Linked DNA regions of Homo sapiens. The protein of the gene in region 2 interacts with the protein of the main gene of each other region in a pairwise test. Each region holds a gene or a part of one and is shown on either strand. Other genes may lie near its edges.

Region 1 (4,197 bases), on a different chromosome or scaffold from region 2:
ACATGCACCCAGGTAACACTGACATTCACCATCCAGAGAGCTGCCAAAGATTTTTAAACAAGGGAATAACATGATCAGATTTGCATTTTAGAAATACACTATTAAACCAAGCAGACAATCACAAAGAAGGTAAATTCACTGCTGCTAAATGAGCATGTGACTTGAGTTTTGCATTAGAATCACCTGGGGAACTTGTAAAAATGCAGACTTCTCACAACTCACAGAAGACTTACTACTTCTAAATCAAGGCAGAAGGGATTAGGGTTTGTATAGTTTGAACCATACAAAATTGCCATTTATTTAGGTCAAAAATGGTCAAATATCAGCAATTTCTCATAGTTCACTCTAATATTTTAACAAATCTCCCCACTTCATGCTTCTGGTATAAACCAAAGTCTGAGAATAGTGAAAGACAGACAGAGATAAACGCTTTTCCCTTTTCATTAATTATCGATGTTGTTACTCACTTTGATGAATATGCAAAGATGGAAGTAACGTAATTTATGTACCTAAAACAAATGTTAAAAGAGAAAAGTGGGGGTTCAAAAACAGCCACCAATGAAGTAAGGCAGCTAATTTAAGGATTTTGGAGCCAGAAGGAACACTGGAGGTTATTCTACTCTTTCCCCACCTCTCAACACAAGTTTATACATAATAAAACTGATGCCTAAATGGAGAAAAGCAATCTGCTTGAGGTCATAGGGAATATTTTGTTCAATTTCTCAATGATACGTGCTTTTTATGTGCTCTTATGAGCATTTTAACAGGTATGGAAATTGTGTAGCTAAAAATACTTGGGATTTAATTTATAGAGTGCTAGGTCACACACTTGAAATGGGAGGAGGCACATAAAGCCAATACTCATGCATAGCCATTTTTAAAATATAAAACCTAAAACAGTGCTTGACATGTAATAGATGGTTAATAAATACTTACTGAACAAATGAGTGACCTCTAAAAAATAGGTTAAAGAAAGTATATTAATGTAAAGGATTTCCAAGGAGGTATACAGGCTGTGAACTGAGTGTAGATTTCCCACCTCCTCACCTGTTCCAAGTAGTCTTTGGTGCCCATCCATGACCCACCACCCTATAAATTCCAGCTCTGCCATATACACCTTTATTTTTCCAACTGAAAGTGCCACAACAAAAAAGCAATACAAAGATCATGTCTGAGCTAAGTTTGACAATAGGTGGTAGTGAAGCTTACAGATGAGCACAGTCTTCAAAGTCCATCCAAATAGGAATAATAGCTAACACTTACTGACAGCTAATAGAAGCTATACTAGAGGGATACAACAATAGTTAATGCTAGCTATACAATAATAATAAAGCTAATTTGTGCCTACTATGTGTCAGGCTTGTTAGTCCTTCACATGCATTAACTTACTTAATCCCTTTAACAATTGTCTGATGTAAGTGCTATTATTATCATTTTGATTTTACATATGTGGATAAACAGATTAAGTAACTTACCCCAAAATCACAGAACTGAAAAGTGGCAGAGTTGTGAGCTGAACCCAGGCTGGCGGGTGCCCAGAGTTTACCAACTGAACTCTTTGAACTCTCAGTGGTAAAATTAAAAGTTCCCTGCAAGCTGACCTCTTGGAGCACTCGTGTCAGGAAGATGACATTTCTGGATAATATAAATTGGCCCCAGTATTTCTGTCCATAAGGAATGAAGCATTTTTATTTGGGAACCCTATACACAAAGTGAGACCCAGGATATAAAGGAGTAAGGCAAGAAGAACAAGAAGAAATGTCATTCTCTTCTGCCTTGGCACAGCATGGTTATCACAGCCTAAGAACAATAATAATGGCTAATTTTGGCTAATAAGATCTCCAACTTTGACTTTCTCCTAAATAATGTGGGTCCTTGCGTGAGGATATTTTCTAAAGAAGCAGCAAAGATATTGCCATCATTCATTTGCTCAGTGGTGTCACTAAGAAAAATACTTCCAGAAAGAAAATTAAGGCCAAAACACTTCCTTAAACCAGGCGTAAAAGTCCTCTAACAAGGAATTTAAAAGAAAAAGATCAACACCGGATTTATCTTTCTTAAGTAACTATCACTTGAAAAACCGTCCCTCCCAGCACTCCTTAAGGAGCCAAGCATACTGACAAGGCCCCTTTGGTCTAAGACTGCGACCTCACACCCCTACTGATCGCTGAGAACTCAGGAAAGGGGAGCATCCCGCCAGCCTAGAGCGTTATCTGCACAATCTGAATACCAAGGACGGGAGAAAGAGAAGTTTAGAAAACAGTGAAGATCCCAGAAAGGAAGTTCAACTGACCTAGAAGAAAGGGCCCAGCTGAAACTGCCTTTCAAGCTCAGTCCGATTCCCCACAAATCTCCCTACATCCAGCTATATCGCCCGGCAAAATGAAACAAACACAAGGTAAGGCAATACAAGGGCAGGAATTATGCAAAATAAAATGCGTAATGAGGATGTCTCTCCATCAAAAATACTCCAGGATTTTCCTACACAATCCCATGTAACAAAACCAAATGCAAACAACAATAAACCCTTAAGAAGCGCATGAACAACGCAGACTGAGCCCATCTCGCCCCACCTCACGCCGCACCCCGGTACCCTGGCTAAGGAAAATGTGACCCCCGCCCATGAGAAGCCTTCCGGCGTCCGGCCAAGGTCCAGGAGCCGCCGGAGTTGAGTTTGCCCAACTCTTACCCAGGTCCAGAGATCTTGAGAATCGCAGCGCAACCTTTTCTCCCCGGTCTTCACCCAAAGCCAGCCAAGACACAAAATCTGTTCCAATCAACGCGGTTAGCGTCCAAGCAGCGTCCCAGAAGAAAGCAATCTTTGGGAGTCTTCTTTCAGGCGTAAAGGTGGAGAAGCGGGAAAGAGGAACGTCTCAACGCGTTCCCAGTCGCCCAGTTTTGCGCACCGGGAAAGTACTTGCTGCAAACTTGAACAAGGTTTTCTCTGTCTGGCCCGAGATGCTGGAGGGGGTGGGGGCGGGTAACCCGAGCCGGGGCCGGGATTCGAGCAGTTGCCGCTGCTGCAGCTGCTGCTGCCGGGGCAGTGGCCGCTGGGGGGTTGTCGCTTGGCGCCGCGCGCAGTCCCTAGCGCAACATGCAGGATCTTCCCGGCCTGACTGCTGCACCTCGATCGTGAGTCGCCCCTGCCTGAGCGGCTTCCACCGCCTGGTGGGTGACCCCGCCAAAGGCCTGGTCGCGAAGTTAGCAAATGTTGGGGTCACCGCAGGGGGTGACCGAAGGGGTGTCAGAGTGGGTGCCCGCCTGATTCCCAACCCACGTTGGGTGCAAGTCCCTCGGCAGAGTCCCTGGGAGGTGTTCTAGACCCTCTGTAAGGATTTGTGGGACGGTGGCCGGCGCCCGAGCGGCCAACTGGAGTGGACGGCGGGTCCTCAGTGGTGTCAGGGGAGAAAGCGCAAAGGTGGGACCCAGAAAGGATGGTGATTAAGCCGTGCCAGAGAATGTGATGTGGCAGCAAAGTACATGGAAAGGTGGGGCGGGGAGGTGAAGGCAGAGGGTGGAGGGTGGGATAGTCTGCTTTACCATGGAGGGGCGGAGAGAGAACTCCCCGGACGCGCAGGAAAATCCCCCCAGGTCCTCGGAGGCCTCGCGCGGCAATTTATTGGGGAATGGCTCCCTCTGCCGACTCGCCGAGGAGGCCCCGGGAGGCCCAGTGATGGAATGTTAAAACCATGAACGGGCTTTTCCATTTGTGGGTTAGACAGGACATGAATTCTGGAATCTGCTTCTCTGACTGTCCATCTTCCTCTTCCAGACTAAAGAGTTTTCCAGCTTTTACAGGACCCCAAAAGATACAAATTTGACTGCTGCAAAGTTCTTTCTTGTGTCGTTGAATTCTATCCCCCTCTCCCCACAAAAAAACAAAAACAGGTTTAAGCCCCATAACCACTCCAGGTAACCATCTCCTACCAGGCTTCTCTTCCTCCCATTAATAAGAACTCTTTCTTTTTAGAGAGACTTCAAGAGCGTTCGAGTCCCTACTCAATAACGCTCCTGGAAAATAGTACAGACTCCATATTATGTTTGAGTGAATAAATGAATGGAATGAATGAACATAGATATGTTTGAAGCCCCTCACCATCCTCTTTACTCTCCCTGGAAATACACAGGGGAAGACTGTTTTGGTGTTTGTTTATTTGTTTGTTTAGCAGTCATCATTGCCCCTTCTCTGGTAACAGT
Region 2 (3,651 bases):
TTCCAATGTAGCCCAGAGAAGCCAAAAGATTGGACACCCCTGCCCTAAGATCAGGAATAAAAAAGCATATACACTCTTACCCCTCCTATTGAATATTTTACTAAAGGTTCTAGCCAGGGCAATTAGCCATAAATAAATACATAAAAGGCATCCAGATTGGAAAGAAAAAATAAAGCTATATATATTTGCCCTTGACATGATCTTTACAAGAAAATCATAGAGAACCCACAAATAATCTACTAGGATGAATAAACAAGTTCAGAAGAGATTCAGAAACAATATTAATATATATAAAAATCAAGTGTTTTTAAACATCTACAACGAATAACCCAAACATTCAATTAAGAAAAATAATTCCACTGACAATACCATTAAAAACAGTATTTTGAAGAATTTAAGAAAAAAAGTGCAATTCTGAAAACTATAAAACATTATTGAAATTTAAAGAAGATCTAATTACAGTTGTATGCCACATCAGAACATTTCCATCAACTACAGACCACATACATAATGGTGGTCCTATAAGATTATAATACCGGCCCAGCATGGTGGCTCACACCTCTAATCCCAGCACTTTGGGAGGCCAAGGTGGGCAGATCACTTGAGTCAGGAGTTCGGGACCAGCCTAGGCAACATGACAAAACCCCATCTCTACTAAAAATACAAAAATTAGCCAGGCATGGTGGCACACACCTGTAATCCCAGCTACTCAGGAGGCTGACATGAGAATCACTTGAGCCTGGGAAGCGGTGGTTGCAGTGGGCGGAGATTGTGTCACTGCACTCCAGCCTCGGTGACAGAGCGAGACTCTGTCTCAAAAAAAAAAAAAAAAAAAAATATATATATATATATATACACATATATATATATACACACACATATATATACACATATATATACACATATATATACACATATATATATACACATATATATGTAAAATACCATATTTTTACTATACCTTTTCTAAGTATTTGTGTTAGATACACAAACGTATCCAACACAAATACTTACCACAGTGTTACAACTGCCTACAGTATTCAGTACTGTAACATGCTGTACAGGTTTGTAGCCTAGGAGCAAACAGTTAGACTATATAGCCTAGGTGTGTAGTAGGCTATGCCATCTAGGTTTGTGTACGTACACTATATGATGTTTGCACAACAATGAAATACTGTAATGAAACATTTCTCAGAATGTATCCTCATCATTAATTGACACAACTATAAATGAAAGGATATCCCATGTTCATGAACCAGATGATTAGGCCAGGCACGGTGGCTCACGCCTGCAATCCCAGCACTTTGAGAGGCCAAGGCAGGTGGATCACTTGAAGTCAGGAGTTCGAGACCAGCCTGGTCAACATGGTGAAACCCCGTCTCCACTAAAAATACAAAAATAAACCAGGGATGGTGGTGTGCATCTGTAATCCCAGTTACTGGAGGCTGAGGCAGGAGAACTGCTTGAACCCAGGAGGCAGAGGTTTCAGTGAGCTGAGATTGCACCACTGCACTCCAGCCTGGGCAAGACACCATCTCAACAACAACAAAAAAAAGGACCAGATGATTTAATATCAAGATGACCATACTCCCAAATTGATCTACAGATTCATCACAATCTCTATCAAAATACTAGCTGGCTTCTTTGCAGAAACTGACAAGCTAATCTAAAATTCATATGGAATTGCAAGGGGCTCCAGAATGGCTAAAATATCTTGAAAAAGGAAAGCAAAGTTGGAGAACTCCCCCATTTCAAAACTTACTATAAAGCAATATTAATCAAAAGAGTGTCTCCTAGTCAGGCATGGTGGCTCACGCCTGTAATCCCAGCACATTGAGAGGCCGAGGTGGGCAGATGGCTTTAGCCCAAGAGTTTGAGACCAGCCTGGGCAACATGGTGAGATTCCATCCCTACAAAACCTACAAAAATTAGCCAGGCATGGTGGCATGTGCCTGTAGTTCCAGCTACTTGGTAGGCTGAGATAGGAGGTCCACTTGAGCCCAGGAGGTGGAGGTTGCAGTGAGCCGAGATTGCACCACTGCATGCACTCCAGCCTGGGCAACAAAGAGACACCTATCTCAGAAAAAAAAAAAAAAAAGTGTTTCCTGGAATAAGGTGGGCATATAGATCAATGAAATAGAATTGGGAATCCAGAAATAAACCCATATATCTATGGCTAACTGATTTTCTACAAGGGTACTAAGACCAATCAATGGGGAAAAGAACAGCCTCTTTAACAAATGGTGCTGCAGAAAGACAAACTGCCTATTCTTCCAAGTGGGAGCTAAACAACAAGTACATGTGGAAGCAGAGTATGGAATGACAGAGAGTGGAATCTTGGAAGGGTGGGGAGTGTGAGAGTGGGGTGGATGAAGAGAAATTACTTAATGAGTACAACGTAGGCTACTCCAGTGATGGATACACTAAAAGCCCTGACTTTACCGCTATGCAATATATCAATGTAACAAAATTATACTTGAACTCTATAAATTTACACAAATCAATAAAATTTAAAAAAAAAAACAGTGCTGGATAGTCACATACGAAAGAATAAAGTTTGAACCCTTTCTTCATATCGTATACAAAAATTAACTCAAAATGGATCAAAGACCTACATGTAATAGCAATACTATAAAATCTCAAAGAAAACATAGTAGGTCCTCATGACCTCACATTTGTCAAGGGACTGTATCTTGTCAATCCCTTGATTGATAAGGGATTATATATGTAATATGCATATATATAAAGAATTCTTACAATCCAATAGTAAATAGACAAATAACCCAATTAAAGAATGGGCAAAAGTTTGACCTGAATAGATATTTCTCCAAAGAAGACACACAAATGGCCAAGAAGCACATGAATAGATGCATGAACCATAAGGGAAATGCAAATCAAAACTACAAAAAAGTCAGGTAATAACAAGTGCTGATAAGGATGTGGAGAAACTGGAACTCTCATACACTGCTAATAGGAAGGCCACTTTGGAAAACAATCTGGCAGAAACTTAAAAGGTTAACAGAATTCCATATGTCCCAAAAATTCTACTCCTAGATATACATCCAAGAGAAATGAATCCATATGTCCACACATACACTTATATAAGAATGTCTACGGTAGCATTATACATAATAGCCAAAAAGGAGGAAAAAAAACATGTCCATCAACTGATGAATGGATATACAAAATATCACATATCCATATAATAAAATATTATTCAGCCATATAAAGTAATGAAGTACTGATACATGCCACATCACAGGTGAATCCTGAAACCATTAAGCTAAGTGAAAGAAGCCCAGTCACAAAAACACATATCATTCCATTTATATGAAATGCCCAAAATAGGTAAATCTATAGACAGAAGGTAGATTAATAGTTGCATATGGGGAATGGAAGACGGGGGATATCAGCTAAAGTGTATGGGGTTTCTTTTAGAAGTGATAAAATGTTCTAAAATTGACCGTGATCATGATGGCACATATCTATGAATATACAGAAAATGACTGAATTGTGCACTTTAAATTAAAGGTGAATTGTACAGTATATGAATGATATCTCAAAAAAGCTATTAAAATGTTTTTAAGTAAGTCAATTAAGCACTCAACACAAGGAAATACACACACACACACACACACACACACACACACA
Region 3 (3,651 bases), 1.7 Mb from region 2:
GGTCATGCCTCTCCCATTTGAGCAGGACCCTCCAAGGGACCATCCTTATTCTGCTCTCTGAGAGGTCTGCTTAGAGGGGTGACTGGAGGGCCCGAGAGAACCGTCCTTCCCCTGAGTCCACAGCAGCCATGGAGAGGAAGTTAATCCCTGAAAGTTTACTTAGAAATTTCAGGCAGCCAGCCAACCCTGAAAGTGGTCCTTGAAATTGAATATACTTGTTATATAAAGAGTGGTAACAATAAGAAATACTAGTACCCCAAAGGAAAAATGAGAAAACGACATGCATAGCTAATTCACAAAATAATTACCAATGTCTGCAAAGCATTTTTAAAAAGGTTTAGTCTCTCCAGTAATTAAATAAAGGGATACAGTAGTCCCCCCCTTATCTGGAGGAGATATGTTCCAAGACCCCCAGGGGATGCCTGAAACTACAGATAGTACTAAACCCGTATTATGTACTGTGTTTATTCCCATCTATACATATCTATGAGAAAGTTTAATTTCTAAATGAGGCACAGTAAGAGATTAACAACAATAACTAATAATAGAACAATTATAACAATATATTGTTATAAAAGTTAGGTGAATGTGGTCTTTCTCTCTGTGTGTCAAAATATCTTACTGTACTGCCCACGGGTAGCTGAAACCCTAGAAATCAAACCCAAAGATAAGGGAGGACTACTGTATTTTTAAATGTGTTTTTTTTGTCTGTTAAATTATATATATTTTTAAAACAGAAATGCTCATTGCTGCTGAGCATGCAGAGAGAAGACAGGCCCCCCTTTTACTTCTGCTGGGAGCACTAATGGTTTTACTGTGTGGAGGAAGAAATTTGATAACATATAGTAACAGATTTAACAATATTTATGCCCTCGGACTCTGTCATCCGACTTCTAAAATCCTTCTAAATAAATAACCCAATAAATTTTAAAAGTCTAGGTTCTGGGATATTTGTTGCAGCATTATTTACCCTATCAAAGAGTTGGAAACAACCTAAATGAACCAAAATAAGTAGTTTACTAAATAATTATGGTCAACCATCCCATACAATGTTTGGCAGTCATTAAAAACCGAACTTTAAAGAATAGACAACTACATAGTGAAATATATTCCGAAGTGAAAAAAGCCATCTATGGAACTGTATATGCACAGTGTGACATTTCATAAGCTTGCAGAGAAAATCAGCTATGATGCATGCAAATGTTAACAGTGCTTGTCTCCATGTAGTGGAAGTAGGGGTGGCAGTCTCCCTTCTTTATACATTTCTGAAGTTTCCAAATGTTTTACAAAGAGCAGGTGCTGCTTTTATGTTCAGAAACCCTACATCTTTTTTTTTAAATAATGAAGTGGCCCTTATGTTTTTTCTGGCCTGGTTACTCTCCAGGCCACTGAGCAGAGCCTTCGTGCCCCTAACCAAGTGCTCTCTGTCCCCTCAGGGCAAGCTGGAAATGACCTTGGAGATTGTAGCAGAGAGTGAGCATGAGGAGCGGCCTGCTGGCCAGGGCCGGGATGAGCCCAACATGAACCCTAAGCTTGAGGACCCAAGGTCAGTGCCCAGCCCCTGAGCCCCAATGCCCACAGGTCTGGGGGTATAGGCCACAGTCCAGGAGGCATCCCATTGCATGGCCATGTAGAAGTCACAAAGCCCACGTGGCTCAGAGAGGGGCACGACTCATCCAAGGCCACACAGTAAGTTAGGGGGAAGGTGATGGGCATCTGTCCAGAGAACACTGGGCTCAGCGAATTCAAGATGCAGGTGCTATTGGGTACCTGTTGGTTGTGTGCCAAGCATGCTATCCTATGCATGTGTACATTGTGCTATGGAACCTTCCCTGCAGGGTAGTTGTTATTATCCCCATTTTACAGATGAGGAACAATCTCAGCAAAGTTAAATAAGGGCATTCCAGCTAGGACAGTGGTGAAGCAGAAATGCTCTCACCTGGTCTGATTGGCTCCAGAGCCCGATCAAGGTCTTGACCCTACCAAGCTGCCTTCGGTGGCTCTCCTATGGTGCCAGTGTGACTTTCAAATGGTTTTTCAGCCTTCATTTTTCCATCTGTGAAATGGGGAGCCCAATCCCTGTCTTCCCTACATCACAGACCTCTTGGGGAGATAGACCAAGCCAATGGATGTAGATGCTGTGAAGGCAGTTACAGGGGCAGAGTCACTGAAAGATGGCTGTGGGGGCTCAGGAATGTGTTTGCTGGATCCCGCCCCACCAGCCTACTTGGCTCAAGTTGGATTTAGCATAGATGGCTCAGTTAGTCACCATGCTGTGATTAGCACCGTGTGCCTGAGTGCCATGGGGCTGGCAGAGCAGTGAGAGGCACCCTTGCCTAAGGATGCTGGGATCTGCACAGGAAGAAAAGAGAGACCCGTGAGACACCAGTGTGCAATCTGATGTTAACGGGGCCATGATGGAGACCCAGAATCCTCCACGTATTTTGAGATGTGGAGCTGGCCTAGGGAAAGGTTTTGAGATTCTTGGTTGTGAGAGAACCAGCTTCCTATGTTCTCTTCCCACCGTTGTTCCCTGAGCATGGACTAGCCATGTGCATCTGGGCAGGTGTCTTGGCTTATCTGGGGCTCGGTGGGCTGGAGAGCACTTTGAAGCACTGCCCAGCTCCTAAATCTGCAGTTTGTGATTAAGTCCTGGGTCAGGAATGGGTGAGGGCACCAAGGAAGGTGTCCTGGAGAGGATGGCAGAGAAACTGGGCCACTGAGGATGCTTAGGGCTTGGCAGCACCCAGAAGAGGAGGGCAGCACAGGTGGGGGTGATACTGTAGCAAGGGCTTGGGGGAGAGGGAATGCAAGGTGCAAAGGGCTAGTTTAGGGACAGGGCCTGGGCAGGCGCTGGGGGTGGACTGTGGAGGGCCAGGCCATTGGACCTGCTGTTGAGAGAAGAGTTTGGAGAAAGCAGCCCTAGTAAAGGATGCCCAGTTGACCTCCGGGATCTCGCTTCCAGGCGCCCCGACACCTCCTTCCTGTGGTTTACCTCCCCATACAAGACCATGAAGTTCATCCTGTGGCGGCGTTTCCGGTGGGCCATCATCCTCTTCATCATCCTCTTCATCCTGCTGCTGTTCCTGGCCATCTTCATCTACGCCTTCCCGGTGAGCAGGCCTGACGACACTGTGGTGGGGGAACTCTGGGTCTAATGGGGGAGTTCATCATTGTCCTCAAAGAGCTCTCCCAGTCTAATGGAGAGAAGTAACCTCTGTCCTTGGAGAGCCCCTGGTCTGATGAGGATACAGAGCCCAGCTCTGGGGAGTCTCCAATCTGGTAGGTGTACAAAGTTCTACCCTTGGAGGCTCTTAGTCCAGTGAGAGAAACTGAGTTCTTGCCCTTCATGGTGAGACAAAGCTGTCCTCAGCAAGCCCCTAGAATTTGTAATGAAGGGGTTAGGAGAAGATGAGGCCCTTTGGGTTGCGGTGGGCAGGGGGACTTTCTGGAAGGGAGGTGTGGAACTGGGTCTGAAAGGAAGGTGAGATGTTGATGGCAGAGCAGAGAAGGTCCCTTTGTCTTAACAGCAGTTGCAAATCCAGAGGAAGGGAGGAGCTGGGGCTGGGAGAGCATCTCAGGGTCCACCTGAGGCACTCAATAGAGTGTGTCCTGCCTCCTGCAGCAGGTGGGCATAGGGAAGCTGTCGGG

What was found.
Region 1: the proteins of ALMS1 (region 2) and MEGF10 interact in a two-hybrid assay, tested with the Homo sapiens proteins (one large-scale study listed by IntAct).
Region 3: the proteins of ALMS1 (region 2) and DYSF interact in a two-hybrid assay, tested with the Homo sapiens proteins (one large-scale study listed by BioGRID and IntAct).

Annotation. Positions count from the first base shown.
Region 1 is NC_000005.10:127,289,549-127,293,745, reverse strand, and holds the start of MEGF10 (multiple epidermal growth factor-like domains protein 10 isoform a precursor), read right to left. Parts: upstream 2,951-4,197; 5' UTR 2,938-2,950; coding exon of another isoform or gene 2,623-2,937; exon of another isoform or gene 2,170-2,622; intron 1-2,169. Other genes in the region: uncharacterized protein LOC105379199, read left to right, coding at 2,623-2,937. UniProt on the Homo sapiens protein: Membrane receptor involved in phagocytosis by macrophages and astrocytes of apoptotic cells. Receptor for C1q, an eat-me signal, that binds phosphatidylserine expressed on the surface of apoptotic cells. Cooperates with ABCA1 within the process of engulfment.
Region 2 is NC_000002.12:73,392,265-73,395,915, reverse strand, and holds part of ALMS1 (centrosome-associated protein ALMS1), read right to left. Parts: intron 1-3,651. UniProt on the Homo sapiens protein: Involved in PCM1-dependent intracellular transport. Required, directly or indirectly, for the localization of NCAPD2 to the proximal ends of centrioles.
Region 3 is NC_000002.12:71,679,565-71,683,215, forward strand, and holds part of DYSF (dysferlin), read left to right. Parts: intron 1-1,436; coding exon 1,437-1,546; intron 1,547-2,965; coding exon 2,966-3,113; intron 3,114-3,651. UniProt on the Homo sapiens protein: Key calcium ion sensor involved in the Ca(2+)-triggered synaptic vesicle-plasma membrane fusion.